Linked DNA regions of Homo sapiens: regions 2, 3, 4 and 5 are each linked to region 1. The links come from fine-mapping of genetic effects on gene expression. A gene starts in region 1. Each other region holds a variant in brackets. All regions are shown on one strand. Distances are between the middles of the regions.

What was found. PIP is the estimated chance that this variant, and not a neighbour inherited with it, causes the effect.
Region 2: its variant is the best candidate, but not a certain one, in a credible set for the expression of USP3 in monocytes after R848 (Quach 2016, PIP 0.76).
Region 3: its variant is the best candidate, but not a certain one, in a credible set for the expression of USP3 in transverse colon (GTEx, PIP 0.63).
Region 4: its variant is the best candidate, but not a certain one, in a credible set for the expression of USP3 in breast (GTEx, PIP 0.89).
Region 5: its variant is the best candidate, but not a certain one, in a credible set for the expression of USP3 in sigmoid colon (GTEx, PIP 0.61).

The regions. Positions count from the first base shown.
Region 1 is chr15:63,502,194-63,508,507 of GRCh38, reverse strand. It overlaps USP3 (ubiquitin specific peptidase 3), which reads right to left and starts at 3,915. Exons shown (of 15, transcript NM_006537.4): 1 at 3,678-3,915. The coding sequence starts at 3,768. RefSeq lists silencers at 3,104-3,183, 3,254-3,453, 3,524-3,633, 3,984-4,323 and enhancers at 4,049-4,841, 5,314-5,363, 4,842-5,635.
Region 2 is chr15:63,447,409-63,453,722 of GRCh38, reverse strand. No RefSeq gene overlaps it. Among named protein-coding and RNA genes, the nearest start is that of USP3, 54 kb to the left of the region's middle. The variant G/C (reference allele first, on the strand shown) is at 3,591.
Region 3 is chr15:63,645,503-63,651,816 of GRCh38, reverse strand. It overlaps HERC1 (HECT and RLD domain containing E3 ubiquitin protein ligase family member 1), which reads left to right. Exons shown (of 78, transcript NM_003922.4): 53 at 437-564; 54 at 1,892-2,092; 55 at 3,618-3,748; 56 at 6,135-6,314. Among named protein-coding and RNA genes, the nearest start is that of USP3-AS1, 48 kb to the right of the region's middle. The variant C/T (reference allele first, on the strand shown) is at 2,610.
Region 4 is chr15:63,388,171-63,394,484 of GRCh38, reverse strand. It overlaps LINC02568 (long intergenic non-protein coding RNA 2568), which reads right to left and starts at 4,255. Exons shown (of 7, transcript NR_120375.1): 1 at 4,224-4,255. The variant T/C (reference allele first, on the strand shown) is at 3,579.
Region 5 is chr15:63,974,558-63,980,871 of GRCh38, reverse strand. All of the region lies in intron 3 of DAPK2 (death associated protein kinase 2), which reads left to right. Among named protein-coding and RNA genes, the nearest start is that of DAPK2, 69 kb to the left of the region's middle. The variant G/T (reference allele first, on the strand shown) is at 3,117.

The sequences.
Region 1 (6,314 bases):
CGTTATTAGGAGATAGCTATTTTCAACATTTACCTTAAACCACATGGATGTATCTTCTAACTAGTTAGCTTCCTGTCTCTCCCCCAGCTAGATTAGACTGTTAACTTTTTTGGCAGCAAAGGACTACTAGAGCCCATGCTCTATTTCCCAGCTAATACATTTCAAAAACCTCAGGTCTCTACAGAAACATAAACGTTGGTAGCCTTAAGGATTTCTCTAATTTTTTAAAGTTATTTTGATATGAGCAGGTATCCTTAACTGTTAACTATAGCTTACACAAGTGGGTTCTCAAAGTGTGGTCCTGGACCCCTGAAAGTTTCCAGGACCCATTCAGGGGATCCAGAAGGTCAAAACAATTTTCATACATAATATTTAAGATGTTACTTTTGTTTACAGTCATTCTCTCACAAGCATGCAGTGGGGTGTTCCTGAGGCTGCATGATGTGACATCTCAAGAGACTGAATGCAGAAGCAATGTAAGAATCCAGCTGTCTTCTATAAAGCTGAACAAAGAGTTACAAAAAGGCAAAATAATGCCATTCTTCCCACTAAATTTTTGTTTTGAAAAACATTTTACATAAACTGTCAATTTATGTTATGGGTGTGGGTCTATTATTATTTGTAAGCATATTAATAAATACATATTTTAAGTTTTTCTCAGTTTTAATTTCTAATAAACATCATCAACAGATATAAGCTACACGAAGGCTCTTCAGGTGCTCAACAATTTTTAAGAGTGTAAAGGGGTCCTAAGATCAAAAAGTGTAAGAACCACTGTCATACACAATTATATAACCCAACACACAGTGCCTTCCATGGATAAGAAGCTCATGCTAATTCTGAAGTATAATTACTTCTTACTTCTTGTAATCTTGTTGAGTTCTGTATCTCCCTGTAAAGCATCATTCAGCATAAAGCCAGTCTGTTCTAGTCCCCATTTAATGGGCTTTGGATATTTAATTATTCAGAGTCCTCTTTACAAAGATGTTCTGACCTCTAATACCACCTATTACTAGAACAGTGTATACAAGTTTCTCAAAGTTTTCACAAAAAATTACCTTGTTCATCCTAACAGCAACCTGTGAAGTAAATGCAAAGTATTACCCTTTTCTTTGCAGATTATATAAGGAAACTGATACTCAAAGAAAATAGAACTATTTGTCCAATTAGGTACTGCTAACTGGTAGAACCTAGAATGTTGTGGCATTTTGCAATTTGCTTGGCTGTCTTACCGTGGTATAATTGCAAACTCGCAAAGAAAATAAGGCAAGGGCATTACTTTTATTGTCCCAGTGCCAAAACAGGGATTTTCCCCTCCTTAATAAGAACATAATCAGATTCAATACCCAGTCACAGTATTAGTCAACACATCGGCTACCCTTTTGGTCCCCTATGAAAAAAACAAAAATAAAATAAAATCAAGAGTGTGGGAGAAAAAAAATACGACTATATAACACTCCAAGATAATGAGTTAGTTAAGGACTCACAGATTCATCATTTAATCACTGAAACGACAGGCACGCAAGAACAAGATCAAGCTTAATACAATAACGCTAGATTATATCAACAAATGGATGCCAACGGGTTAAGACGGGAGGCCTACATAAAATGGGTTCAATTCAGAGTGTGGACTCACACAAAGTTGCGAAACTCGCTTTATTGGTTCTACAAATCCAAGTAAGTGACTAGACCCAGGCTTGCAAAGCTATATGTCAGACACACTTTGTTGCAAGATGCAAAGATGTCATCCTACCCCTTGAACAGAAATCACCCCACATACTAGTTTATTCTTGTTATCAGCACATCTCGTTATGCTCCATTTTAACTTATTAAGTTCCTCAAGAGATGCTCAATTTCCTGCATCTCTTTTTCACAGTCAAGTGGACTCCCTGACTGACAGAGGCAAGACTGACTCACAAGAGGGCATCTGCCACTTGCACAGTTCTTTTCCATTTTTTAGATGTATGTGCCCAGTGAAGCCATTTTTAAGTTTGATGTGATTTTACCTAAAAAATGCCAGAAGTGTGCTAATTGTCCATGTTGTCTTTCTGTAGTTTACTACAGATGAGCAAGAGCAATCCCACCATTCCCTGTGAGGTAGGCTTCTCCTAGTGTTTACTTTGGTCTTTTTTTTTTTCTTCAAATTTCTTTTGGGAAAAAAATTAAGTTACAATTATAGCACCACAGCAATGGCTACAGTTATAGCTAATGTACCACCACCAACCAATTTGTAAAGCAGTGCCATACACCTTATTTGTTGTTCTATACTCAACATCCCGACAGATTTACAGGTAAAAGCTAATTTACACAAGTTTCTGCATCCTCACAAAAGAACTGCAATACTGCTCTGTGAAACCAATTAACCGTTAATTTTCAAAGGCTTCATGCAGAAAAAGATACCTGACTTTACAAAGGCAAGCAAAGCATCAGACGTCTGAGCGCGCCAGGAAACCGCAGTTATTTCTATTCCTTATCCCAGAGTACATTTTTCTTTGTGGACCTACCGATGTTGTTTCCAAGAACATAATCACTATTTAAGTAGTAAGCTGTCAAAAGTGCTAAGGCATTCTCTAAACTATCTTCCCAGCTCCGGCCCACAATGAGACATGTCACAGCTAAATCATACCATTGCCGTTTTTCTATATTTCTTCAAATGAACTTCAGATTTCTGAAGTGCACAATTCGAATTGTACGCTATTAATATAACCCAAGATACCAGTGACCATCTCAAAGCTAATAAACAAAGACTAGCGGTGGCACCAGGGCCCTACCAGGAAGTAAGCAAAGCCGTGTGGCCGGTGCGATCCTAAGAAGTCGCTTAGAGCAGACAATGAGAGGGCACTGGGGCTTCCAAGGGGGCCAGCAGGAGTTAAAACGCTTAAGCTACTCAAAAGCCTTATATAAATCTAATAAGTGTTTCACAACACAGGAACTGGGAATCCCAACGCATTTTCGGACAACCCAAAAGGTCTGAAAAACAAACTCGAGCAGTCCCCTCCAAAGCAGCTGTTGGCTCAGCCTCCGAGCTTCTCAGCCCGCAGCCTGTTTTCAAACTTCACCATCCCTGACGGATGAAAGACCCCGACCTCCGCCGCCCGAGCTCCCAGCGCCTCTCGGGGTTTCGAGGTGCCCGAGCCTGCGGAGAAGGGAAAGGAAACCCGGGCCGGGTTCGGCGGAGGAGAGGAGCCCCGCGCGCCCCGCAGCCCAGACAAAGCTGCGCCCGGAGAGCGGCGCTCTTCCCGCCCTGTCTGCGGAGAAGCGCGGCGCGGGCCCCGCCACACGTGCGGCCGCCCCTCGGGGGCCGGACACCCGCCCCACAGGCGACCCCGCAACACGGACGGGCACAGCCCCCGGCCACGGCAGGGCGGGGCAAGGGCGCACGCAGCTGGCCAGGGTCCCCGCCTGCCGCTGCCCCCACGCGCTCGAGGCCTCCGCGGACTCCCGCCCCTCGCGGCCCTCTCCTTCGCTGGCCCGGCCGTCGGGCCTCGGGAAACAAAGGAGCCGCCGCCGCTCCCGCACGCGCCCGCCTCATCGCGTACCCTCCCCAGCCCGCCGGGCCCGGCTCGCCCTCGCCCCTCCCCGAGTCCGCGCGCCGGCCGCCTGCGGCCCCTAGACGGCAGGCCCGGCAGAGCCGCGGCCTCGGGTGCGCTGCGGGGCCGGCCCGTGGCCGCACTCACCGCTGCAGCACCAGGACGACGGGGAGCCGTTGGGGAACTTGGCTGAGTCCGGAGCAATGCAGACGCTGGAGCTCAGGTGTGGACACTCCATGGCCACGAGGAGGGCAGCTGGGAGGACTGCGGCTCCAGGACCCGGCGAGGTGGGGGCGGAGGAACTCCGGAGGCTCCGTCTGGTGTCGCTTCTAGCCGGGCGCTCGGCCGACGGCGGCTGCGTCTCGAGCCCTTGCGTCAAAGAAAGCACGGGCTTCCGGACGCCGGGTTTTCTCGCCCGCCGTCTCCCGGCGCCCCGCTCCGTAGAACGTGTAACTCCGAGATCCGGGTTCTGCAGCCACCCCTAGACTGGAGGCTTCCGCCTTTCCAGGCCGGCCCCTCCCCGCCCCGCCCCCGGGTCCGCCCCCGCCCAGCCCGCGGGGTGGGGTCCCGGCGAGCTCCAGCTGGTGGCGCAGAGTCCGGCTGTGTTCCGAAGTGACTTTCCTAGTCACGCCGCTTCCCCGGCCCCGGGAAGGGTGGGGCGCCGAGCAGGGCACCCCGGGCCGTCCGCGGCGTTTCCTGCGGTGGGCGGAGGATACTGAACCTATGTGGTGCGGACTACTCGGTGGCTTCGTGGTAAAAATCCGGCCGCTCCGCAAAGTGTAAAGAAGAACTTTAAAACCTCTCGGGCAGACAGGCACCGTGGCCCTCATTTTATACACGAAGAAACAAGCTGGGGAGGCCAAGGGCCTGGCCCCGGGGGAGGCGGGCAGCGGGTTTCATGGGTGCCAGGGCAGTCCCGCCCGACTTAGCGTTAGGCTCCTTGCGGCAGGTGCGATCCGTAGCCCTTTCTAGGTTCTGAACACGTGGCGTTAGCCAGCCACCTAGATGCTGCGTGGGTGGGCCCGCAGGGGCGCCCATGAACCCACGTTCAAATCCTGTCACTGTGACTCACCATCTGCGTTACCTCCAGCACATCGTAGGACTTTCAAGCCAGGAAGTTCAAGTGAGATAAACGTAGCCTGGGATTGCTGGGCAAGCTAAACTCCCCATTACCAGGCGATAAGAAGGGAAGGGATCTAGCATTTGTTAGATACCTAAGGTCTCCCAGCCAGGCACTTCCCATACCGCATTTAAGCCTCGCAACACCCTACCAGCTGTTACCATCCCCTTTTTACCGCAGGGGGAAACCGAGTCTGTAACTTGTTGATCTGTATGGAGATTGGATCCCTGACCCTCTGACCTCTTTTTAGTGAGGGATTAGAGAAGAGGGCAAGCCTCAAGGGGCCGCTTGGGCCGGCATACCCTGGATCGAGCCTGCGATCTCACTGGGGCACTTGAGGACGTCCGGGGCTATTACAAATATTGCTTCCAAGTTGGGGCTCCTTGTAAAACCCGGCGAAGGAGCCTCGGGGCCAGAAGGCGAGCAGGAGGAGGGGGAAGACTGATGTGGCAATCCTGCGGCCAGAGCGAGAGGAGGAAGGAAGGTCAGGAAATGATTAACCGGGCCGGGCAGTGGTTAGAGCCGGGCACCTCCCCGCAATGCAGTCCTAGAGCAGCCAGGGACGCCCCGTCAATCACTTCTTACTCCTCCCTACCTCCCACGCCACAAGTCGGCCTCTTCCGCATAGACCTCTGCCTAATGGTATCCACCCACCGGGGGCACCTCTGCTCATCCTTTCCCCAGAAGTATTTCTGGGTCCTCAAAGATCTGTCCTTTTCCAAGTGGTATTTGCTGTTAGAGCAAGCCTCGGCCTGGGATTTTTATGGCAGTGATGCGTTGTGGAAAGTGCGTCTGCCTAGGAAGGCAGGCCGGCATGCTTTCAAATCTTAGCTCTGCTGCCTACTTGACGGCCAGGCTTAGCAAGCGTCTCTAGCCGTTCCAAGCCTTTTCTAGATCTGTAAAACTGGAAGAAGAATACTTGTCTCGCAAGGAACATGTGAGAATTCATGAAAATTGCCACCACATACTAGGTGGCCAATAAATTATAACTTTGTATTTGTTTTTACTGACACTAGATGAGAGCTGCTTCCCTGGGAAGCGGGAGGAGGAGAAACAATAATATCTGCCCTTGGCTCAAGTTCTTCCACCCATCTCTCCATGTCAACCTATTTGTCTTTAAGGCCTTGCTCCACCAACCTTCTGTTTCCTCCGGACACCCACCCCCACTTAGCATCCATAACCCCTTGTTCGGCCCTGGAGCATGACCTCACTCAGGCCATGCTTCATACTGGTATGTAATATTTCTTCACCCTCTCAGAGACTCCGTTTCCTAATCCCCTAGACTTCAGTTTAAACATCACTTCCTGAGGGAGTCTTTCCCGACCCTTTCCCACCCGCAGGGTACCTCCCAGTGTGTGATGTCCTTGTCTGCCCCAACACCGGCTTTTAAAAACACTTAAAACAAAAAACAAAACAAAAAAAAAAACAGTGTCTCCTATATTGCCCAGGCTGGTCTCGAAATCCTGGGCTCAAGAGATCCTCCCGCCTAGGCCTCCCAAAGTGCTAGGATTACGGGCATGAGTCACCGCGCCCGGCCTAAAAACACTCTTCATGCGTGTAATTATTTGTTTAATGTCTCTCTTCCTCTTGTTTGTCCATAAGGTAGCAAACAAGTCTGTCTGGTTTTCTGCTTTATTTCTAACATGCAATGTAGAACATGGAGG
Region 2 (6,314 bases), 55 kb after region 1:
AATCCCAATGTTTTGAGAGGCTAAGGCAGGAGGATCCTTGAGGCTAGGAGTTTGACACCAGCCTGGGCAACGTAGTGAGACCCCATCTCTAAAAAAAAAAAATAGGCAAGAGAGAGGACCCCTAGCAAAGGGTATCCTCAGATATGCAAGATAATAGAGCTAGTAATATTTCTTCCCTTCCTCTCCTTGGCCCCCACCCCACAATTCAGAATTTTAAAATGTCACAGTCTTGCCTACACTAAAACAAGCATGTTTGGGATCCAAACACCCATCTTGCTATCTTCTTTCCCCTGCTGTTTACAGGAAAGCAGGAAGGCTGCAGGTCTCCAGCCTTCCTGTCAGATGGTACACCACAGCCTAGCTGATGCAGGCTCCAGAAAACTCTCAGGCCTTTGCAGGGGGAGTGGAGGGAAAACAAACTCTCTTCAGAGTTGGAGTTTCTCTCTGCTAACTCAATAAGTTGGATATTCATAAGTCTAAGAGTATGACTTTCAGCATTGTAGGTTTCAACCTGGGGAGGTTTAAAAATGAAGTCTGTGCCCCACCCCCAGAAATCTGGGATTTTGAAAAGCTTCCCAGGCATTCTAGCATATAGCCAGGGTGGCAAACTGCTGAACCATGGTCAAGAATTTCAATAGACCCCACCTCCTACCCTGCTCTACAGGCGGGTTACTTCTATCCACTCTGTCCCACACACAGAGATTATGCTCACTCTGAATTGAAATGTATAAATTCCACTCCTCACAAATGAGGTCACGTGTGTGAAGCATGGGCTGGAAAGGAGATGGTTCATCTCTTGGCTTCACCACTTGCTATTAGCAAGGCTATACAGGGAGGGAGTTACAGGCACAGGCCTTCTGGGCCTGCATCCTGACTCCACTGCTAACTAATTTAGTGACTCCGGACACACTGCTAAGCCTTTCTAAGCCTCAGTTTCCTGATCTATGAAATGGGGCTGTGGGTTGTTGAAGGGTTGCAGGGCTGGGAAGAGAGCACAATGGCATGGCCTGAGCATGAGTGTCTCTTTATATTTCCCAGCCTCAACACCTCACTTTCCTCACCCTGGTGACTGTTCTAAGAGGATGCAGGAGTTGACTAGGCCGGGCGCAGTGACTCATGCCTGTAATCCCAGCACTTTAGGAGGCCGAGACAGGAGGATTTCTTGAGGCCAGGAGTTTGGGACCAGACTGGGCAACATGGCAAACCCTGTCTCTACAAAAAGTACAAAACTTAGTTGTGCATGGTGGCGCCCATGGTCCTAGATACTTGGGAGGCCGAGGTGGCAGAATCACTTGAGTCCAGGAAGTCAAGCCTGCAGTGAGCCGAGATTGCACCACTGCACTACAGCCTGGGCAACGCAGTGAGACTGTCTAAAAACAACAGCAACGACAAAATAAAATAAATGTTGACCGGTAGCAGGAGAGGGGTCCAGCACCCATCTCCTAAATCTGCTGGCCCACTCTACATATTATTCCACCCAATCAAATTAAATTGCATTTCTTCCTATGTAAGCTCACGTCAACAACCCGATTCCATCCTTCTATTCCACTTCACTCCCCATCCCGCCCAGCCCTGGCAGCTTTCCTAACTGGTCAAAGCAACTGAATTTCATTCAGTTCAATTATTCTATATCCCTCTACTCATAGAGTTGCCAGATTTAACAACAACCACAACAACAAGATACAAGATGCCCAGTTAAATTTGAATTTTAGGTAAGCATTGAGCAATTATTGTAGTACAAACATGTTCTGTGCTATATTCAAATTTGTATTTGAGATCTTTTAAAATAAAAATTCCAATTTCAGCAAAATGTGCTTTATCTGGCAACCCTACCCTAATATCACTGCTTGGGAAGAGTTGGCTCTGTGCCTCTGGGGCTTTTTCTCTCCCACATTATAGCGCTTGGATTGTAAGACAAATTATAACTGTTTCCCTGCAGACTGGGAGCAAGTAGGAGACATGTATGCACTTAATATTTCTTTTTTTAAATTACTTAGCATAGTTCCTGGTACTATTTGTGGAAGGTAGAAAGAAAGGAAAAGAGGAAGGGAGAGGCCGGGCGCAGTGGCTCTCGCTTGTAATCCCAATACTTTGGGAGGCCGAGGCGGGTGGATCACAAGGTCAAGAGATCAAGACCATCCTGGCTAATACGGTGAAACCCCGTCTCTACTAAAAAAACAAAAAATTAGCCGGGCGTGGTAGTGGGCGCCTGTAGTCCCAGCTACTCGGGAGGCTGAGGGATGAGAATGGTGTGAACCCGGGAGGCGGAGCTTGCAGTGAGCCGAGACCACGCCACTGCACTCCGGCCTGGGTGACAGAGCAAGACTGTCTCAAAAAAAAAAAAAAAAAAAAAAAAAAGGGGAGAAAGGCAGAAATGAAGAGATGAAGGGGAAGGGTGTTCCCAGGTCTGAAGCCCCAATAGTACCTTTCAAGAATGGGACTCGAGTGGTGGCCTTGGCCCCTTCTATCTCATTCTAATGCCCGCAGCTCTGGTCAGGGCAGAAATCTCTGTGGCTCTATGAAAGATTGTCTTGGGGCAATTATCTTGGTGCGCACATTGTTGGCTTTAACATATGGGACTGTATGGTGGACGCACCTGACGGCGATGCATAACCTGAGAATGACACTGTATGGCAGACGCACCTGAATGCAGTTCCGAGCTAAGGAATCCAGGAGTGGCCAACCCGAGTCATTCCTTATTTAGGAGCAACATCTGAGCCCCTGGCCCTTCCTGTGGAAGGCGTACAGGAATTTGAGGCCCTTCGTTCTGGCTTAAATGAAGGTTGCCAGGTGGAGGTTGTTAGGGGGAGGGTACTAAGTGAAAATGCTATGTAAACTACATGCCTTTTGCAAACAGTTGCGGTTCTCCTGTCCAGCCTGCCACCACTGGACTCTTTCCCCTGTATGTAAGCCCTTAATAAAACCCCATGTGGGGCCGGGCACGGTGCCTCACGCCTGTAATCACAATACTTTGGGAGGCTGAGGCGGGCGGATCACGAGGTCAGGAGATCGAGACCATCTTGGCTAACACAATGAAACCCCGTCTCTACTAAAAATACAAAAAATTAGCCGGGCGTGGTGGCGGGCGCCTGTAGTCCCAGCTACTCGGGAGGCTGAGGCAGGAGAATGGCGTGAACCCGGGAGGTGGAGCTTGTAGTGAGCCGAGATTGCGCCACTGCACTCCAGCCTGGGTGACAGAGCGAGACTCTGTCTCAAAAACAGACACACAAACAAAAAAACCCACGTGTCTTTCACTGCCTCTGGGTCTCTTCTTCGGCCTTTTGAGCCTGGTGCCATTCCCCAGTGGAGTCGATAGGGGTTTGGCACAGCAGGGATCAATCCAGTCACCCTGCCCTCCCCCCACCCATCGGAGGAGATAGCAAAGAATGGTCTCACTTTATATCAGCTGTACTCTCTACAAAGTTAATCATCAACCTCATCCCAATGCATCTTGCAGAGATTGGAGGTGGAGTGGTGGGGTTTTGGGGGAGAAATGAGGTACTGGCGCTGCAGAAATGGCGCTGTGCCTTTCAGAAAGTTTATACAGGGGTAGCTGACCCCGCAGCTGGAGGTGCTCTAAAAATGTTAAA[G/C]GTTTCCAGCTGTTGGCTCTTGGGAAATTCTGGAAATGAGGAAAATCCCACTATCATGTCCTTAAAATACAAGGAGGCGAGTGCTACACCAAGGACGTTTGCCAACAGGACAGGGGCAGGGCCACCTCTGCTTGGGTGGGGGGTGGTGCGTGGCTGAGGTTGGACAGTGACTTGGAGAAGCCAGGCACTTGCTCAGAGAGGGGAGGGGCCTTCCAGCCAGGGAAGAGTATTTGCAAAGATCCTGGCAGGAAGGACAGGGAAGAGTCAGGAATCCTGGCCTGGCTGGCTGGTAGAGTGCCTGGGGGCAGAGGAGGGAGAGGCTTCTGGAAAGTGGGTTGCAGACACTTGTGAGGGTTATGACTGCCCAAGTAAGGGGCATGGCCTTGTGTTGACTTAAAGGGGCACTCAGAGTCTTTAGGTAGGAGAGTAACATAACAAAATGTGTGTTGTTTCAACTTTTTTGCATATTATCTCTTTATGATAAAGGGTATTACAATGGCCTGTATGTTTAAACATTTTACATTTCTAACGCTTGTTTTTAAAATTATAGGGTGTGCAACATTCCAGAACAAAAATTTCCATGGGATTTTATAGAACAATTAAGAGGAGATACATTCTTTGTGCAGCTATTTTAATATAGTAGTCTGCTATATATACTTTTTCATTTCTATTAAATTATAAAGGGTACTAAGTAATTGTAAAGTCTGAATAAATCTATGTTTATAGAAGAATATTGCCGAGGTCAACACAAATTACTATTTTTATTTGCATTTTCAATTAAAAGATTAACTTAAACCTCACCCAGTGACTCCTGACATGTACAGTGCTTACTTGACACAATATTTTCCCACTTCTGCAGTAACATAGGCAAACAATTCAGTAACTTTTGTGCTTTTAGAAACAACAGCCAAGTTTCAGAAAAAAAAAGTATTTTCTCTGGTTCTTCACAGCTCACCTTGAATATTATTTGTTGGGTTTTTTTGGGGTTTTTTTTGTTTTTTTTTTTTTGAGATGGAGTCTCGCTGTGTCACCCAGGCTGGAATGTAGTGGCGCAATCTTGGCTCACTGCAACTTCCGCCTCCCCGGTTCAAGCGATTCTCTTGCCTCAGCCTCCCGAATAGCTGGGACTACAGGCCCGTGCCACCACGCCTGGCTTTTTTGTATTTTTAGTAGAGACGGGGTTTCGCTGTGTTAGCCAGGATGGTCTCCATCTCTTGACCTTGTGATCCACCCACCTCAGCCTCCCAAAGTGCTGGGATTACAGGCGTGAGCCACCACACCTGGCCCTATTTGGGTATTTCTAAAACTACTCGTACTTTTCCTTTTATTTAAAAAATTTGAAAACATACAGAAAAGTTGCAAAGACCATACAACAAGCACCTGTATACCCTTCGATGAGATTCACCAGTTGTTAACATTGGACCACAGTCTCTCTCTCTCTGCACCTCCTGGGTGTTGATGTCTCTTCAGTTCCCACCTTTGGAGAACCTGAGATCTTGCCCTGCTCTGAAACTTTTCAATCTTCCCTACATCCAAAAAATTTACACCCACCAGGCTCCCAGTTTCTCATTGTACTTCTTTCTTTGAAATGAGGAGTAAGAAGATTTGAGCTCAAATTCTGGTTCCTCTATCTTGTGACCATGAGGAAGACAATGTTTCTGGGCTCCAGTTTCCTCATTTTTAAAACGGAAGAATATGTGGGGGAAGAGGGCGGGGGAAGGGAGAGCATCAGGACAAACGGCTAATGCATGTGGGGCTTAATACCTAGGTGATGGGTTGATAGGTGCAGCAAACCACCATGGCACATGTTTACTTATGTAAGAAATCTGCACGTTCTGCACATGTATCCCAGAACCTAAAATAAATTTTAAAAATAATAAAATGGAGGAATAATGCTTAAAAAAAGTCAAAGTATATGAAAGTGCTTTGTGAACCCTAACAGCTCCATAAAAATGTAAGGGGCCATTATTACCATAAATGAAATCCTCTGATGTATTAACAGCTTAATGAGTTAATGCTCCCAAGTTATCAAGGCAGCCCGATGAACTGGGAACCAGTTTGAAGCCAGAGAGATCTAGTCTGCTATTAATTACTTGTGTGACCTTGGGCAAAGTTGTGTAACAGACTCTCTGGGGTCTTAGTTTCTTCATCTGCAAAATGGAGATCACGATCCCTATCTCGCAGTGGAGTTATTTGTGTTTGCTCAGCCCCAGGGCTTGCTGGACTGACCAGGGCTGCAGTAGAAGAAGACGGAGAGGTGAGGGTTGAGTGTTGGGGTGAGAGGGCACAGGGGCAATGATTCTCAACCTTGGATGCACATTGGAGTTATCTGGGAACTTTAAAAAAAATTCCAATGCCCAGGCTGCACCTGGGACAAATTATCAGACTCTCCAGGGGGTGAGGCCAGCCATCAGTATTTGTTAAAGCTCTCAGGTGATTCCAATGTCAAGTGAGCTAACAAAGCTAACTTCTGCTGTCCCTTCTCTTCTCTCCCTTTGGGACCATGACCCAAAAGAGTAACTAATGGGGGCAACCCTAGGCCTGGTGCAAAGTGGTGAAGAAGGCACTCCAGGATAGGCAGGACTTTCAGATCCTCTCCAACACAGGCAGCTGCGCACTGGGGCTGCCTAAGCTTCCTGAGTGTATTTAGGTCCAAGTCATTAAGTGACATCATTTGAAAGCTAAAAAGATCAGATTACAGCATCATGTTGATACCCTTTCTCC
Region 3 (6,314 bases), 140 kb before region 1:
ATCTGCCTGCCCCAGCCTCCCAAATGCTGGGATTACAGATGTGAGCCACTACGCCCAGCCGCATTTTTAATAGTTTTATAGCCAGCTGTAGCTATTTCTTTTCTGAAGTATTCCCAAGAGTTTAGGCAAATAAGAATCAATGTCTTCTGAATAATAACCATCTGTACAACACATACAGAATTTGAATGTCTTTATTGACAAGTTGTGTACTACATTAAATGAGGAAAAGTCTAATATCACTCTTTTATAATTCATTTTTCACATGATGACAAACATTAATGAGTGTGTAACTGTTAAATACTGCTAGCCAAGGTTTTGAAACAGAAGAATCAGTTATACACTCTAGTCTATATGAAACCCTTATTTTAAGGTTTGGGATTTAATTTACTTTTGAATGATGGGGATTAGAACTGCATATCTGTCTGTTATATTCTAGGGAAGGGGATGCTGAGGAAAGCCTGGGATCACCCAGTGATCCAAGTTTCTCACCAGTTTCCTGGAGTATCAGTGGCAAATATCTAGCAGGCGCTTTGGAAAAGATGGTGAATATCTGGCAAGTTAATGGTAAGAGTCATGTAAACACTAGTAAACTGCTGAAAGTAGTTTTTTAAAGCCTTCTTCTTAGTCTTCTGAGTCCAAACAGTGGTTTCTCTTCACCTTGAAATTCACAAGCCTTCCAACAACTCTGAAATTTCAATCTATGCACTGTGTGCTTCAAATTAGAGAGGAAGTGCTCATTTATTCACTTTTCTTTCTGGGACTTTCAACTAACCTAGTAGTTATAAACTTAAATTTTTTTTCTTGTACCACTAAGTATTCAGAGTAGGGTTTGGGGAGATGTAGTTGTCACTGAATTTTAAGCTATGTATTCTTTTGAATTGCTTGAAATATTTCTATTATGTTTATTTTGCAGGTATAAATTCTTGTCAGTTTTTATTATACCTCTCTGGAAAGTAAAAATAATTATTGTAATATCGAGCTTATTAGTATTTTCATTTGTTTTTACATATTTGAGGAATAGGTGTTCTGTGTCACATATTTGAGGAATAACTTCTGTGTGACATTTGAGGAATAGCTAGCCTTAACTGCAAGTAAGTTTCTTATGCCAATTTGGTTATCAGTAATTGTTGAGAAAGGACTTAAGTGCTTGACATTTGTACATTTGTACATTCAGTGTTTTTCTTTACACTCTCTTCTATAACGCTACCATTTTGCCCTATTAATAGTTACAGACAGCCAGGCGTGGTGACATATGCCTGGAACCTCAGGGACTCAGGAAGCTGAGGCTCAAGGATTGCTTGGGCCTGGGAGTTTGAGGCTTCAGTGAGCCATGATCATGCCATTGTACTCACTCCAACCTGGGCAACACAGCAAGACCCTCTTTCAAAAAAAAAAAAAAGGTTACAGAAAAACATTAATTTTATTTATTTATTTATTTATTTTGAGACGGAGTCTTGCTCTGTCATTCAGGCTGGAGTGCAGTGGCGTGATCTCGGCTCACTGCAGCCTCCATCTCCCAGGTAGCTGGGACTACAGGCGCGTGCCACCATGCCTGGCCAATTTTTTGTGTAGTTTTAGTAGAGAAGAGGTTTCACCATGTTGACTAGGCTGGTCTCGAATTCCTGACCTCAGGTGATCCGCCCGTCTTGGCCTCCCAAAGTGCTAGGATTACAGGCATGAGCCACTGTGCCCGGCTGAAAAACTTTAATTTTATGATCATATATAGTATTATAAATGAAGGATCCTGCCTTCATGGTCTTATTCATTAGTAGGCTATTATGAAATTTGGAACTGCTTTGAGTGTGTATTAGAATTAAGTAGTATTTGTTTCTGTTCCTTTTTTTCTTTTTAAGAATTAAGTAAAAACTAGTTAACATTTTTTCCCTTTTAGGAGGAAAAGGATTAGTAGATATTCAGCCTCATTGGGTATCTGCCCTGGCTTGGCCAGAAGAGGGTCCGGCTACAGCCTGGTCAGGAGAGTCTCCAGAATTGTTGTTGGTGGGACGGATGGATGGATCTCTGGGACTGATTGAAGTTGTTGATGTGTCCACCATGCACCGTCGAGAATTGGAGCATTGCTATCGAAAGGATGGTAAATGACTGCACTTACGTCTAGCTGACGGAGTCTCCAACTTCCTTTCTAGACTTAGCTTTTTGGCATTTGCTTTTAAAAATACCAAGTGAATATTATCTTGGCTTTGTTTTCAAAATTTTCCAGTCATGTTTTAATTTTAATTAGTTACTGAATTGAAAGATATTTATCTCCTAGCCCCCACCACACATCTCTGTCAAAATGAGATTTAATAGTATTATAACATTAGTAATTCATCTTTTGTGTGGCTTAATATTTATAGCAGATTCCAAGTCTCCTTTGAAAGTTAGGACTGTCCAAGAGAAAAAAAGGTCATAATCATTGGTAGAGATGAAATTGTTTTTTTTGTGTGTGTTTTGTTTTGTTTTGTTTTGAGAAGGAGTCTCGCTCTGTCACCAGGCTGAAGTGCAGTGGCGCGATCTCGGCTCACTGCAACCTCTGACTCCCTGGTTCAAGCTATTCTCCTGCCTCAGCCTCCCAAGTAGCTGGGATTACAGGCACTCGCCACCACGCCCAG[C/T]TAATTTTTGTATTTTTAGTAGAGACAGGGTTTCACCATGTTGGCCAGGATGGTCTCGATCTCCTCACCTTGTGATCCGCCCACCTTGGCCTCCCAAAGTCCTGGGATTACAGGCGTGAGCCACCGTGCCTGGCCGAGATGAAATTGTCTTTTAAAAAATGAGTAAAATTGAAGTAATGGAGGAAGGGGAAGCAGGGAATTCCTGGTCTGACAAGAGAGATTAGGAAGTCTGCTTTCTTCTTACTGTGGTGTTCCTTTGAACGTGAATGCATCTCACAAGATTTTGTTGGTTGTCTGGGGGAAGTGGGGTAATTCAAAGTCATAGTGCCTGCTTACATGGTATTCCATTAACAGAAGAGGTTTGTTTTGTTTGTTTAAGAATAGGTAATACTTTCATAGGGTTCAAAAATTCAAGTTTTAAAAAGCATACAGTGAAAAGTCTTTCTCCTGTCTACTCAGTTCCCACACTCCCATTCTACCCTCACAGATACTGTTTTTACTTCTTTTGTAGTCTTTCAGTGTTACATATACTTGAAGAAACAAGTAGAAATATAGATTGTGAGAACAGAACATTTTGATAGAATATGGAAACATACTGAATAGGGAATATTAAATAAGCAAAAAAAGAGATGTAATTTTCTTTCTATGACTTGGGTTCTTTCACTTCTCAGTTTCATGGTAGATTTTGGTCCAAAAGGAAAGAACCTATGGTGACTTACAATCAGCAAAGGAATTTAATTTTTGTCTCTATTTTTCAACAACCACCTGAAAAAGAATGAAAGATTATAAAGTAGGTAGCCCTTGTCACAGATAAGCGACACTTTTAAAAAGTATGTTACATGGAATCCCCACTGTACGCCTACATTTTGTCTAAATGCATTAAAGAGCTATTTGGAAATTTACTTGCAATGGTTGCATTATCATTATTTGTTTCAAAGTCTCTGTCTTTTAAGTCAGACAATGACAAATAATTATCTTTTCCTTACTCTTTTGTTTTGATCATGTTAGTGTCTGTTACTTGCATTGCATGGTTCAGTGAAGACAGACCATTTGCAGTGGGATATTTTGATGGAAAACTGTTACTGGGAACAAAGGAACCACTTGAGAAAGGAGGCATTGTTCTAATTGATGCACATAAGGTAAATGCATCTTTAAAAAACGTAATTTTATGGGATACAAATATAATTTTGTTACATGCATAGATTACACAGTGGAGAAGTCAGAGATTTTAAGATATCCATCACCCAAATGACATACATTGTACCCATCAAGTAATCTCTCATAATCCATCCTCCTCCCAGCCCTCACCTTCCAAGTCTCCCTTGTCTATCATTCCACACTCTAGGCCCGTGTGTACACGTGAGTTCCCTTTTCACCACTTTCTTGCCAACATCTGTTGTTTTTTGTCTTTTTAATAATAACCACTTAAAAGTGAAAAAAATGTAATATTTGCCTTTCTGTGTCTGACTTATTTCACTTAAGATAATGGGCTTCAGTTCCAACCATGTTGCTTAAAATACCTGATTTCATTCTTTTTATGGCTGCATAGTATTCCATTGTTTATATATACCATGTTTTCGTTATCCAGTCATCCATTGATGGACACTTAGGTTGATTCCATATCTTTGCTATTGTGAATGGTGTTGTGATAAATGTATGAGTGCAGGCATCTTTTTGAGAAAATGAATTATTTTCCTTTGGGTAGATACTCAGTAGTGGGATTGCTGGATCAAATGGTAGTTCTGGTTTTTGTTCATTGAGAAATCCCCATACTGTTTTCTATAGAGTTTGTACTAATTTACATTCAAACCAACAGTGTTTAAGAGTTCCCTTTTCACCACTTTCTTGCCGACATCTGTTGTTTTTTGTCTTTTTAATAATAACCATCCTGACTGGGGTGAGATGATATCTCATTGTGTTTTTTTTTTTCTTTTAATGTAAATTTTTATTTTTTTAGACAGAGTCTAGCTTTTTCGCCCAGGCTGGAGTGCAGTGGCGCGATCTTGGCTCACTGCAATTTCCAACCCCCAGGTTCAAGCAATTCTTCTGCCTCAGTCTCCTGAGTAGCTGGGATTACAGGCACCCACCACCAAACTGGCTAATTTTTATATTTTTAGTAGAGACAGGGTTTCACCATGTTGGTCAGGCTGGTCTCGAACTCCTGACCTCAAGTGATCCACCTGCCTCAGCCTCCCAAAGTGCTGGGATTACAGGCGTGAGCCAACGTGCATGGCTCATTGTGGTTTGAATTTGCTTTTCTCTGATGATTAGTGATGTTGAGCATTTTTTCATATGCCTGTTGGCTATTTGTATATATTCTGGTAAAAGCATCTTTACCAGATAGTTGCTTTTTCTTGTTTTGTTTTGTTTTTGTTTTTGTTTGTTTGTTTGTTTTTTCCTGAGATGGAGTCATGCTCTGTCACCCAGCCTGGAGTACAGTGGCACGATCTCAGCTCACTGCAACCTCTGCTTCCCGGGTTCAAGCAATTTTCCTGCCTCAGCCTCCTGAGTAGCTGGGATTACAGGCGCCCGCCACCACTCCCGGCTAATTTTTTTTTTTTTGTATTTTTACTAGAGACGGGGTTTCACCATGCTGGCCAGGCTGGTCTCGAATTCCTGACTTCATGATCCGCCCACCTCGGCCTCCCAAAGTGTTTGGATTACGGGCGTGAGCCACGGTGCCCAGCCTTCTTGGTTTTTTTTTTTTTTAGCCTCTACTATTGCTTGATACTAGTTTCTTTTAAAATTTTTTTACATCAGTCACTTATGACTTAATGTTCTGTTGTTGCACAGAATCTTTGGACCATGGATATACATGGATAAGTCTATGTAAAAATAAATAAGCCATGAAAGAGTAAAGCTAAAACAGTGAATTATGAACACCCTGGTAATACCTCCTGTTCAAATGCTCCCAGTAATGTCAGAAATTCCGTTCATGAAGAATGATTTTTTTACCTTAAACAGAGGTTGCCAGTTCAGATATTTACAGGACCATCTAGGCAAGTAGCGTAAATGCATGAAACCAGGAGTTAGAAGATGTGGAAGAGGATTGAAAAATAAAAATAAAATCAGAAGAGCACAATGATCACAGCCATATAAACACAAAACATATCCCAGATTCTCATTAGTGTTTGCTATTGGGATGTAAGGGGTGCATTTTTTTAAGTCTCTTCTTTTTTATACTGTAATGATTATTAGTCAATAAGGATAACTCTTAATAAATACAAATGCTAATGAGAGATAACATATCCCTTTTGAGTCAGAATTTCATAATTCATTTATCCTGCTAACATTTGTTGAGCTTTAACTGCAGCAAATATATATAACACAGACTACATTAAAGGGTAAGTTGGTCTAGTGATTGGGAATGATATGGCAGTATCTGATTTGCATAAAATATTGATTTCAAAATAAATGAGTTATAGAAATATAGATGCTAAGAAATATAAGTTATGTATTACTGAATTTAAAGTATTTGTGAAGGAAACATTACTCTGATTTTTTTTCTCTTCCTTCCATTTTAAGGATACTCTTATTAGCATGAAGTGGGACCCTACAGGTCATATTCTTATGACATGTGCCAAAGAAGACAGTGTGAAACTCTGGGGCTCTATTTCGGGATGCTGGTGCTGTCTACATTCACTCTGCCATCCATCTATTGTAAATGGCATTGCTTGGTGCCGCCTTCCAGGGAAAGGATCCAAG
Region 4 (6,314 bases), 110 kb after region 1:
AACCAAAGTTTGTGCTTTTTTTTTTTTTTTTTTGAGATGGAGTCTTGCTGTGTTGCCCAGGCTGGAGTGCAGTGGCACAATCTCAGCTCACTGCAACCTCCGCCTCCTGGGTTCAAGCCTCTGAGTATTCTCCTGTCTCAGCCTCCTGAGTAGCTGGGATTACAGGCACCCACCACCATGCCTGGCTATTTTTTGTATTTTTTAGTAGAGATGGGGTTTCCCCACGTTGGCCAGGCTGGTCTCAAACTCCTGACCTCAGGTGATCTGCTCGCCTCGGTCTTCCAAAGTGCTGGAATTACAGGTGAGAACCACCGTGCCCGGCCTATAGTCTTTTCACAACACACATCTGCATATCTCTCTCAACTATTGCTCAAACTGTCTCTCATGCTGCCCATTCAAACTCTACCTATAGAGGAAAAGAGTCTAAAGAAACATATTAACCAATTGCAATCCATAGACCTTGTTTGGATCCCAGTTCAAACAAATGGTTAACAAAAACACTTAGAGGATAATTGGGAAACATGATATTAAGGAATTATTATTGATTTTTATGTGTGCTGATAACATCATGATTATGTCTAAATAAGGCAGTCCTTTTTAAAGAGAAATATCTATAGGTGAAATACTAACTACAAGGGTTCTCAGAGCAAGGCCCTCAGATCAGCAGCATCAGTATTACCCAGGAACTTGTTAGAATGCAGATTCTCAGGCCAGACCTGCTGAATCAGAAACTCAGTGGGTGGAGCCCAGCAATCCATGTTTTGACAAGCCCTTCAGGGGATTCAAATGCATGCTGAAGTTTGAGAGCCACCACAATAATGTGATGTCTTGAATTTGTTTCAAAATAATCTGGGGAAGGGATGATGGGTATATAGGGATTCATTATGACCATACTGTCTCCTTTTTTTTTTTTTTTTAAAGAGATGGGGTCCCCCTCTGCTGCCCAGGCTGGATTCAAACTCCTGGGCTCAAGCAATCCTCCTGCTCCACCTCCTGAGTATGTATTCTCCACTTTTATATGGGTTGGGAAGTTTTCCACAATAAAAAATTTTCAAAACTCCAAACAGTTTTCTCTGCAGTGCCGCCTAATGGCTCTCTCCTCACTGCTCTTGTCTCTCTTTTTTGCCCGCTCCCCTCCATCTGGAACATTTCCTCCTGGCTTCAGAAATGGCTGCTGTCCTTATTTTGTTTATGTTTATTATTATATTTTGAGATGGAGTCTCGCTCTGTCACCCAGGCTGGAGTGCAGTGGCGCGATCTCGGCTCACTGCAACCTCTTCCTTCCAGATTCAAGTGATTCTCCTGCCTCAGCCTCCCAAGTAGCTGGGACTACAGGTGTATACCACCACACCTGGCTGATTTTTGTATTTTTAGTAGAGACGGGGTTTCACCACGTTGGCCAGGCTGGTCTCAAACTCCTGACCTCAAGTGATTTGCCCACCTCGGCCTCCCAAAGTGCTGGTATAAGCCACCGCACCTAGCCCTTATTCTGTTTATTTGCCTCAAGTTTCTCAAATCTTAGGAGCTCCTTCTCTTCTTGCTCTCTCTCCTTGTCCTCTCTGTAAAAGTCTTTAAATGGCCCTTCTCATATCATTCAGTCACAGTTTCTCGCGTCTCAGCGTTCTTCTTCCTGGCTTCTAGATTCTGTGCACTCTGTGGTTTGCAGAACTTGTTATCCAAGACCTTGTCTTTGCACATGCGCTGAGTGATCTCTCTGCTGCTTTTATTGGCACTATCGACAGTTTCTTTTCTTTCTCTTAGAAAACAAAACATTTACCTCCTTCAATTAAAAAAAAATTTTATGTGATTGTTTTAGTTTGCAACATATCTGCCATTTAAAAAACTCCAAACAATAAAGAAGTGGAACAAGTAAAAATGTCACCTTGTTCCCCAGAACACTCTCTTCATTGCTAACTTCCTAATGCTCTCGCCTATCCCTCCGTGATATCTGAGTTCATTCCTCCTCTGACCTCTGCCTTAGATCCCCCAGGACAGCATGTAGAGTTTGGAACTAAAGATCACAGCCCATTGACTCTTCAGTCTGAGGGATGGAGTAAGTTAAAGGGACAGAAGTAAATAAAATTGAGAAGGCTGGGCACAGTGGCTTATACCTGTAATCCCAGCACTTTCAGAGGCTGAGGTAGGAGATCTCTTGAGCTCAGGAGATCAAGGCTGCGGTGAGGTATGATCATGCCACTGCACTCTACCCTGGGTAACAGAGTGAGATCCTGTCTTAAAAAAAAAAAAAAGAGAAGAGAGCAAAAGAGAGCCAGGAGTGAGTGGGAGGAGGATGGTTGGCAGCTGCTGGAAGTGGGACAAGGAGTTAAATGTCCTTTGTGTCCAGCTCCCACAACTCCCCCACCTTTCCCTTGGTCTTGATCATGGCTTTTGATCTCTTTTGGGAGCTCCAAGGTGCAGAAGCTTCTTCAGAGAGTCTGCTGATGAAGCACTGTTCAGCATGTGGATCTAGAATGAAGCCTCCTTGACCGCCGCTATGGCAGCTTCTGCTCTTGGCTATGGGCTTGGACCCATTCTAGTGGGCTCCCTTCCCCAGCATGTCTGGCCCTGTGGGTATACTCGCCTCCTGTTATTGTCCCCGTTAAGCCATCAAGCCACTGACTTACCAACAGTCTACCTATTGTCATATGTATCTGGATCCTTCAAGTTGGAGCTTTGCTGCTCTTCTAGGAGTTCCCTGAACTTCTAGAGGAAGTCACTTAAGAAATTTGACTCCCTGTTTTAGATCACTAATCTTTCCGGGCTTCATGACTTCTTGGAACTTGTCTTAAGATTTTATCAATGTTAAAATAATTAAGACTATGTAGAAATGTTGGAAAGTGTTTATAATCCAATGTTAGTTTTTAAAAAAGTAGTATATACAATAGGGTATCTTTTCTCCATAGTAACCAGGTATATTTCTTTGCTGACATGGACAAGAAGAAGGGAACATGTAAGAATGAAGAGTCATTATCTGGTAGGTTGGATTATCACTTTTTTTTTTCTTTTAAAAGTTCCCTGTTAATAACTCTTTATAAAAATCACTTGGCTGAGATGTTTCCCTGTTTCAGTTCAATGTTTAAAGTTATGTTTCCAGGCTGAGTGCAGTGGCTCATGCCTGTAATCCCAACACTTTGGGAGGCCGAGGCAGGTGGATCGCTGGGGGCCAGGAGTTCGAGGCTAGAATTTGAGGCCAGCCAGGCCAACATGGCAAAATCCCCATCTCTACTAAAAATACAAAAATTAGCTGGGCGTGATGGCAAGCACCTGTAATCCTAGCTACTTGGGAGGCTGAGGCATGAGAATCAGTTGAACCTGGGAGGCAGAGGTTGCAGTGAGCTGAGATCGTGCCACTACACTCCAGCCTGGGTGACAGAGCCAGACTCAGACTCAAAAAAAAAAAAAAAAAAGTTCTGTTTCCAGTCTTGGCCAGACATGCTTTGCCCAGCATCAGACTCTGGGTGGAATCTTCACAAAAGCACTATGCTGCTCATCGCCCTGGAAGAGGCCACAGAGTTATCTTTCATTTCCCTGCACCTTCCTTCTTGTTGGGACAATTGCAGCAAGTTAGCACTGCTCCT[T/C]CCATAACTTTTCTGTGCCCTTTCCCCCAGTTTTTAGCAGTTCCCTTCTGCTGACGGCTAGTTATATAAGACCTATTATGATGGGACTTCTCTCATTCACTGCCTCTGAATTGACTTCTTTCCTACGAACTGGAATATCTCAGGGGTGATATGAACCCAGGGAGCCTTCTTATCACAGACAGGTCTGATTCCCCCACTAAAAACAAACATCTCTACAGTTACAAGCACCAATACACTTTGTAATTATGGACTATGATGTCGTTCCTAAACGTCTCAAAATAATTTTACAAATATTCACTGGGATTAAGTGGCATAATCCCTATCATAAAAATGGAGTTATGGAGGTATTTTTCCTTCTCCACTGTCCTCAGGGGAAACAGAATTTCTAAAGAGAAGCCAAGTTTCTGGGGTTTGAACTTTCTGATTCTTTGAACATTCTTTAAGAACTCCAACTATATCTTGCTATCATTTCTACTTTCCACAAAATCCTGGACAGTAAAGAAAACAGAGACATGTAAGATCAAAAAGTTTTGCATAGCTGTGTCAAAAAACAGAGATGCTAGCATAAATAATCCAGTTTTAATCACAGTAAAAGGAGCCCCAAACTCTTATTTCAAGTGGGGCAGGCATAAAGAAGTAACTCACCAGCTAAGATTTCTTTATGCGTCTCAGCAGTCTTGCCACGCTGTGTCTTCTTGGGGAAGTGTCTCTAGTTTGCTAGCTGAATTGCCGTGGGTGAGAACTATGAAGCCTTGGCTGACTACCTGCTCTGCCGGCCACCAGATACACCTGAGCCCTTTCTCAGTGCTTGAGAGGAAGTTGGATCCCTGCCAGGGCTGGCTTCTGGCCAGAGAGGCAACTCAGATCAATTGGTCTACTGGGAAGCTTGCTGACTTTCACCTGTCCAAGCTACAAAGCCATCAGTGTTAACTGCACTAGGCTTCCAGCCCACTGAGCTCTTTGTCAGGCACTAGAGCCTAAACAAGGTGGCCTGGCTCAGTCTACAGACTCCAGCTGGAAGAGAAGCACAATTGTGCTGCATGCTCCTAGTACCCTACACCCAGTGGAGATGAATGCAAACTAAAATGTAGGCAACTGGGTGTTGCTTGTCAGTTTTGTTTGGAAGCACCTGAAATAAAGGAGTCAGCTCATGAATTCCTGCAATGGTAGAGAGCTTGAGTGCCCAAGCAAGAGGAAATTACCAATAATTTTAATAGTATGTGGCATCTCTGAGCTCAGGAATACCTTCTAGCTACAAAATTCCAGTGATCAGGCATTTCCTGTGGAAAAGAGGTTCTAAGCCTACTTGTTTAGAAGGCTTCAACTTATTTCAGTAATAAGACTGGGTTTGTTATGACCAAAGTTACATTCTATGAGAGGCCAATGTGTGGGGGAAAGGGATATCTGGAAATCTCTACTCGTTCTTCCCTGAGGGTTCATGGAAGTTGATGGAGTTGCCCAAACCAGGGTTGGAACTTTGGGAGAAGCAGCCCCACTTCATCCAGTAAGGATGTTTCCACAGAGGACAAAGATCATTGACATAGTACTCATTATGTGCCGCCGTGCTAAGTTCTTCATATGCCTAGCTGATTAAATGTATTCCTCCCTTTCTCCCTTTGGGGTATACTTACTCTAGGACCCTCATCTCTATTTTTCTCTTTCTCTTCTTCTTTTTTTTTTTTTGAGATGGAGTTTCACTCTTGTTGCCCAGCTTGGAGTGCAATGGTGTGATCTCAGCTCACTGCAGCCTACACCTCCCGGGTTTAAGCAATTCTCCCATCTCAACTTTCTGAGTAGCTGGGATTACAGGCATGCGCCACCACGCCTGGCTAATTTTTGCATTTTTAGTAGAGATGGGGTTTCACCATGTTGGCCATGCTGGTCTCGAACTCCTGACCTCAGGTGATCCGCCCGCCTCAGCTTCCCAAAGTGCTGGGATTACAGGCATGAGCCACCGTGCCTGGCTGGACTCTCATCCCTTTAACCAGGAAGAAATCAAGATTCAAAGAGGTTGAATGACTGGCCCAGAGTCACACAGGGTGGTGAATGGTGGAGTTTCAAAACCCAGGTTCGTATGATGCCAAAGCTCTGCCCCCTATACCATTCTGCCTGCCTGACTCCGAACGGAAGTTGTCAGATTTGATATTAGCACTACTCACGTCAGGCTGGCACTTGTGAGCTTGCTGGAATGTGGCCTGTGAATACACTATGGTTTAGAAGACGGGTAGGAGAGGACAGTGCTTCAGACTGAGAACAAGAAGAACAGGAAGGATATGGACCAAATCCCTGAGGCTAGAGGAGAGTGGGTTCCCCAGCAGGTGTGAAAAATGAGAAGGCTGTGAGAAACCTTAAGCTATTACAGTCTAACTATATCTCCTAAATGTCTGAGTGTCAGCTAACCATGACATTGTGAATAATGCACCTGGAAAGAGGTGACACTATTGCACCAAGGTTTACTTCACGTAAAATGCTAAGTTTCCCCATGCATAGAAATTTGAATTATTATGATGTTTAAATTAATCACACAGAGTGCTTTATAAAAGTCTCAGTGAAGAGCTGTTATTCCCCACTCAACAGAAGTAGGAGCTGAAGGACTCAGGGATCAAGTAACCAGACAAGAGTCATCATGGTAACTGGTGTCAGGTATGCAGTGAGAATTTACAATCCCTTGTTGGAATCCAGTTTTTATTTTCTTAGATTAGTAAACCAAAGCTGAGATCAAACACACTTCCTTTC
Region 5 (6,314 bases), 470 kb before region 1:
ATGATCCGCCTGCCTTGGCCTCCCAAAGCGTTGGGATTACAGGCGTGAGCCACCGCACCCCGACCCAATCACGTCTTAAAGGTCCCACTGCCTAATACGGCCGCATTGGGAATTAAATTTCAATGCGAGTTTGTAGGGCACAAATAGTCAAACCATAGCATCCTTATTGTTGGACACATGCTTTTTATTTCCTAGCTTTTAACCATTACAAATTTTACTGATAAAACAACTTTCTTCTCATGATTTTCTCCTTTTCTTTTTAATTAATTCTTTCAGCAAAGTCCTGAGGATTTAGCTAACATCCCCAGGAATGGGATGACTAAGCCAAAGGCTGACATTTTTGGGACTCAATATCCTCACTTTTCAAAGATGGTGCTGGTTAACCATTACTACCACAACGTAGGAGTGTTGCTGTGTGCCTGCAGCCCTGCCAGCCCTGGGTCATTTGTTTTGAAACGTGTTTCATTATTTATTGATCTTTATAGCTATAAATTGATACTTTCTTACTATAATTGGCATGCCTTTAATTGCTGGGGAAATTGCCTGCTTCTTCCTGTTTGTAGAACCCTAGGAGTCGGTGGCGGGGATGTGGCAGGTAAATGCTCTTGAGATGTCTGTGTTTTTCCCAACAGGGCTCATGGTCAGCCAGTTATGTGCCGGCTTCTTGTGAGCTCAGGTGCACCATCTGTAACATCAGTTGTCACGCTGGTGCTCCCATGACTTGCTTGGGCCTCTGTGCTTATTAAGTTCTGTCCCGTTTCTGTCTCCCCCTTCACTTCCAAGCTGTCTCATTGTTCTCAGGGTGCCTGTCTATGGACTGCTAAGAATTTATGAGATTGGAGAAGACCCAAGCGTTCCAAGACTGTCCCTAACCCATGTATGGCCAGGTTCTGAGAGGGAGGACCTCCCAGGAGAGGAGTTCCTGGGCTTTTGTTTTTGTTTGTTTGTTTGTTTTTTGAGATGGAGTCTTGCTCTGTCACCCAGGCTGGAGTGCAGTGGCGTGATCTCGGCTCACTGCAATCTCTACCTCCCGGGTTCCAGTGATCCTGTGCCTTAGCCTCCTGTGTAGCTGGGACTACCAGTATGTGCCCCCATGCCTGGCTAATTTTTTTTGTATTTTTAGTAGAGGTGGGGTTTCACTCTGTTGGCCAGACTGGTCTTGAACTCCTGGCCTCCAGTGATCCACTCGCCTTGGCCTCCCAAAGTGCTAGGATTACAGGCATGAGCCACCGCACCCAGCCTCATGGGCTTTTGTTGCTTAGACTTAGTGACTCCTGTTAGGCTGGTCAGAAGTCTTGGCCTCGTGGTCCTCACTGGGCCCTAATAGGTTAGTGGGTTTGCCCAGTAAGTGTTAGTATCCACCTACTCAGTTGAAAGCTGCCCAGTTGCAGGTTTTATGAATGAGTCTACGCTGATCCCACTGCCCCTCTCAGCAACTGTTGTCTGGTGCAGGGCTTCCGCCTGCTTTCTGCTCAAGTGGCCAGCACTAGGAGGACATGCCTGGCTCTGATCTAAATCCCTTTCAGTTGTTATTATCCCATCTGTGACCTCCCTAGAAGCAGCTGCCTCTGGTCGTGACTCTTGAAGGCAGGACTGGGAAGGATTTAATTGTCCATATAAGTTGACTTCTGTATGGGGTATAGAATATATTCAAAATCTCAGCAGCTTAACTCATGTCACATGTGGAACTAGCCCTGAAAAATGTAAGTCTCCCTGTGAAGGTTGGGCTGGCCTCCCATCACAGGCCCCTGACTGCTCTGGGGCCTCCTTGATTCCAAGCCTGTGGAAAGCGATACCGTGGTGGTTGCATACCAGAGAACTGCCTGGCAGAGTGCTCCAGGGTGGCAGTGATGCTTCCCAGGTTCCTGAATTGAGCCCAGCTTCCTGGGCCCAGCAGCTCTGGCAGCATTTTTCCCCTATCGCTGCCTGTGCAGGTCATTCATGTATACATTTCCAGAAGAGTCTGAAAAGCATTTCCAGCAGGCATGCCACCCTGCAGGGAGGAAGGAGGCAAAGGTCAGATTTGCAGGAAGGGGATGATCCTGGGAACACTAGGAGAAGAGATGAGGCCAGGTCGTGAGGCTTTGTTTTTCATCTTAAAGCTAAAGAGATGTGGGATGTAAGAGGAAAGAAACTTGGAAGGAGATGGGGGGTGGCTCCAGGGCAGAGGTCTTAGAGGGTAAAGAAATGACACTCAGGCTCCTTGGTTTGGCTTTGAAAAGAGGTGACTGAGCATTAATGTGAATGTCCCAGCCTGGGTATCCAGGGCCTAGACAGTGGCAGGTCATCAGCCTCCCACCTTTCTGAGTTTCTGGGGGAGATTCTAGGGGGCACAGTGGCTGTTCCCTTCTTCATCCCAAGGAGACCATGTCTCACCAGGTCTCCTGCCCATATCTCACCTTCAAACAGATGACTGATTACTGCACCCCAAAGTCCTCCCTCAACCCCAGACTTCATGTCAGTGGCTTTTGGGAATGCTAAGCTAAGAAGCTTTTACACTGATGCAGCATTTTATTTAAAGTAGGAATTGCAGGGTTATTATTTATTTAGATATTTGCCCGAGGTCACAGGCCCACACAACCTGGCAGGGGCTGGCAGACTAAGGGTGGAGCTGGGTTCTGTGTGTTTCAGAGGGGGCACTGCAGATGTGAAAATTTGCAGAGAGCTCTGGACAGATCTTTCACAAATACCAAGGCTTCACTGTCTATATGATACAGAATATTCTACATCATGTTGTTATTTTTAATGTTTTATTTCTTTCTTTCTTCTTTTATTCACCAAACTTCTGATTGAATGTCTTTCTTGCACTAGGTGCTGTGGAAGCAAAAATAATATAGCTGGGGAGAGAGGAAGATAGATAGTGAAGCCCACTGTGAGGAGAGCGTGGATGCAGCAGAGCAGGGATATCAGAGGACTGCCCAGTGCCTGGGGCTGCTTTGAGCCTTTCCATTTTGCATCAGCACCTCAGGCTTTGTAATGTGGAAGGGTTGTGGTGAGAGGGACACATGGTGAACTGGGGCTGAGAAAATCTGGGTCTAAATCCTGGTCCTGCCACTTACTAGCTGTGTGATCTTGGGCAAGTCACTTGCTCTCCTGAGACCTCAGTTTTCTCATCT[G/T]AGAATGAGGATGCCCTCCGGGTGGATATCAAGCTCAAGTGAGGAAATGTTTGGGAAAGCACATTGCACCGGTGGCAAACTTCAAATAAACTCTAAATCAAGCCCCCTTCCACCACTGCCACCCCTGATGATGACACCATGTACGGTGTTTATGTCAAGGACTTTATCAAGAATCTCATAGAGATTCCTCTCACTCCCACCCTCACATCCAAAGCTGGTAATGAAAGCATTATTTTTTTCACTCCTGTTTCACAAGAAGAAAAGTTGAGCCCTAGAACTCTCACATGTCCCACCCCAAGGTGAAGGTTGTATCTTTGCTGCTGAAGGATTGGAGCCATCATCTTGGCCCTTTGACCCCAGTCTGCAGAGCAGACCCAGGGTTACTCCAGCAGCTGGGAGGGTGCTCCAGCTTCCAGCACCTGCCCAAGGTGGGGGCAAGGGTCAGAGTGGGGCAAAGGACGGCCTCACCCATGAGACACTGAGAAAATAGTGCACCAGCCTGGTCCCCAACACCAAGGCAGCCACCTTAGGCCACACCCTACTCAACCCTGAGCAGAGGGGCGCTGCAGCTATGGCAGATGGTACATATGCTCAAATGTGCCATCTTATCTCAGTCTCTCTTCACCCTTTCACCTTCCCCCTTCCCCTTCTCTTTTTTTGCCTCTTTTTTGATGCCATTGATATGTTGGAAAACTAGGCCACTTGTCCTGTTTCACAGTCTGGATTAGACTTGTTCCTTCCTCATGGTGTTCTTTAACTCATTCCTCTGTTCCCTGTATTTCCTGTAACTAGTAGTTAGATCTAGAGGAGATACCCTGCCTATTGGCGCTGTCCAATAGAAATGTAATGTGAACCACATACATAATTTTAAATTTCCTAGTTGCCACACTGACTAAACAAAAAGAAATAGGTGAATTGATTTTAATAATATTTTTATTTAAAATTATTAATGAGATATTTTACATTCTATTTTTCAAACTAAGTCTTCAAAATCCAGTGTGAATTTTATACTTACAGCACATCTCAACCTGTTTTTTTGTTTGTTTGTTTGTTTTTGAGACCGATTCTCACTCTGTTGCCCAGGGTGCAATGGCACAATCACGGCTCACTACAGCCTCGACCTCAGGTGATCCTCTCAACCTCCTAAGTAGCTGGAACTACAGGTGCACATCACCATGCCCAGCTAAGTTTTTTTTTTTTGTAGAGACAGTGTCTCACTATGTTGCCCAGGCTGGTCTTGAACTTCTGGGCTCAAGTGATCTGCCTGCCTCAGCCTCCCAAAGTGCTGAGATTACAGGTGTGAGCCACTGTGCCCAGCCCACATTTCAATTCTTACGCAAAGCAATGCAACGGTTAAAGTGAAATGCAATTCTACTGAAACAATAAAGTTGTATTTAATGGAAAATATTTTATACCACTTCAGTTTTTAAATTAGAATTAATTAAAATTAAATAAAAGTTAAAATTCAATTCCTCTATTACACTAGCCACATTGCAAGTGCTCAGTAACCACATGTGACTAGTGGCTACTCTATTGGACAGCACATATCTAGAACATTTTCATCATTGCAGAAAGTTCTGTTGATAGTGCTGAACAAGAGGCTTAAGCGGATTTAGGTTCCATTTTGTAAGTCACAGCATATCATAGGTGTTGCTGTGTACTTTCTATGTCACTATTTTATGTCCGGTTGTTCTACTTTTCATGATGCTAAGATTATTGAGTGGGTCCAGGTGTGCTTCTGGAAATGTTTAAAGAAAGGAGAAAAGAAGATTTTGATGTTCTTTATTTAGGATGGACTAGGGGGCAGGGAATGATCCCCAAAGTTGGGTTGGAGCCATTTTAGCCATATAAGAATCATCTGGAGCCGAGCGCAATGGCTCACACCTGTAATCCCAACACTTTGGGAGGCTGAGGTGGACGGATTGCTTGAGGTCAGGAGTCCCAGCTTGGCCAATATGGTGAAACCCCATTTCTACTAAAAATACAAAAATTAGCTGGGCGTAGCGGCATGTGCCTGTAACCTCAGCTACTCAGGAGGCTGAGGCCTGAGAATCAGTTGAACCTGGGAGGCGGAGGTTGCAGTGAGCTGAGATCGCATCACTGCACTCCAGCCTGGGCAACAGAATGAGACTCTGTCTCAAAAAAAAAAAAGAAAAGAAAAGAATCATCTGCAATACTCAGTATGCTGTAGTGGTTGAGAGCTGTTCTGCTTGGGTTTGAATCCTGACTCTATTTACTAGCTATGGGACTGTGGGCAAGTTGCTTAACCTCTCTGAGCCTTTGTTTCTTAAAGTGTGAAATAGAAAAATGTTAGTCCTTAGATCATAGGATATTGTGATGATTAAATGAGATAATGTGCATAAGGCATGTAACATAGAGTATGTGTTCAATGAATATTAATTGCTATTATTATGTTGTTAGAGTAAAAATACAGGTTTTAAGGCCTCACTGCTGGAGAATCTAATTTGTTAAAGTCTATGGTGGGATCTGGAAATCTGCATTTTAAAACAAGTTCTCCAAGTGATCCCAAGGTCCTGGATCCCTTGGCCTAGAACCCTTCCTGAGATCTTTCCCTTTGGGCCCATGGCTTTATTTCAGCCCCAGTGGAGCACATGCTGGCTGGATACCCCAGCTTCTGTCAGAGGATTGTAAACCAAAAATTAAATTCTAAGCCCCCTCAACCAACTGAATAGACCCCTCTCTCAGCCAAGGAGATTCCAAAGTAAACCTGAAAAACTTTCAGGCCATGGTGGGAAGAGGGGTTGGACATGCCTCATTATACTCTCTGCCCATTTAAATTCGGGCACAAGTGACCAGCATTAATATGAAAACAGTGAACTTAAGCCTAACAAAACAGACTCTTTGCAGCAATAAGATAATAAATTCCAACCTGACTCTACTATAACATCACATGACAAATAGCAGGCCCTGAAAGAAATAGAAGTATTTTACCCTAATAAATCTTTTGACATATTTTGAAATGGCCCTGCAAAGCTGACTCTTGTGGGAAAAATCTATATTCTGTGGAGAATCTCTGTTCCTTTCCATGTCTTTTTCTGATCCTGAAGAGATTAGCTGAGAGTCTAGCACCTTTTAAGAATATGAATAGTAAACATTTGCCATCTATTGCCTCCAAGGGCAGCCACCTGTGAGACTTCATCTACATAATAAAAACCTTGGTCTCCATAACCCTTGTCT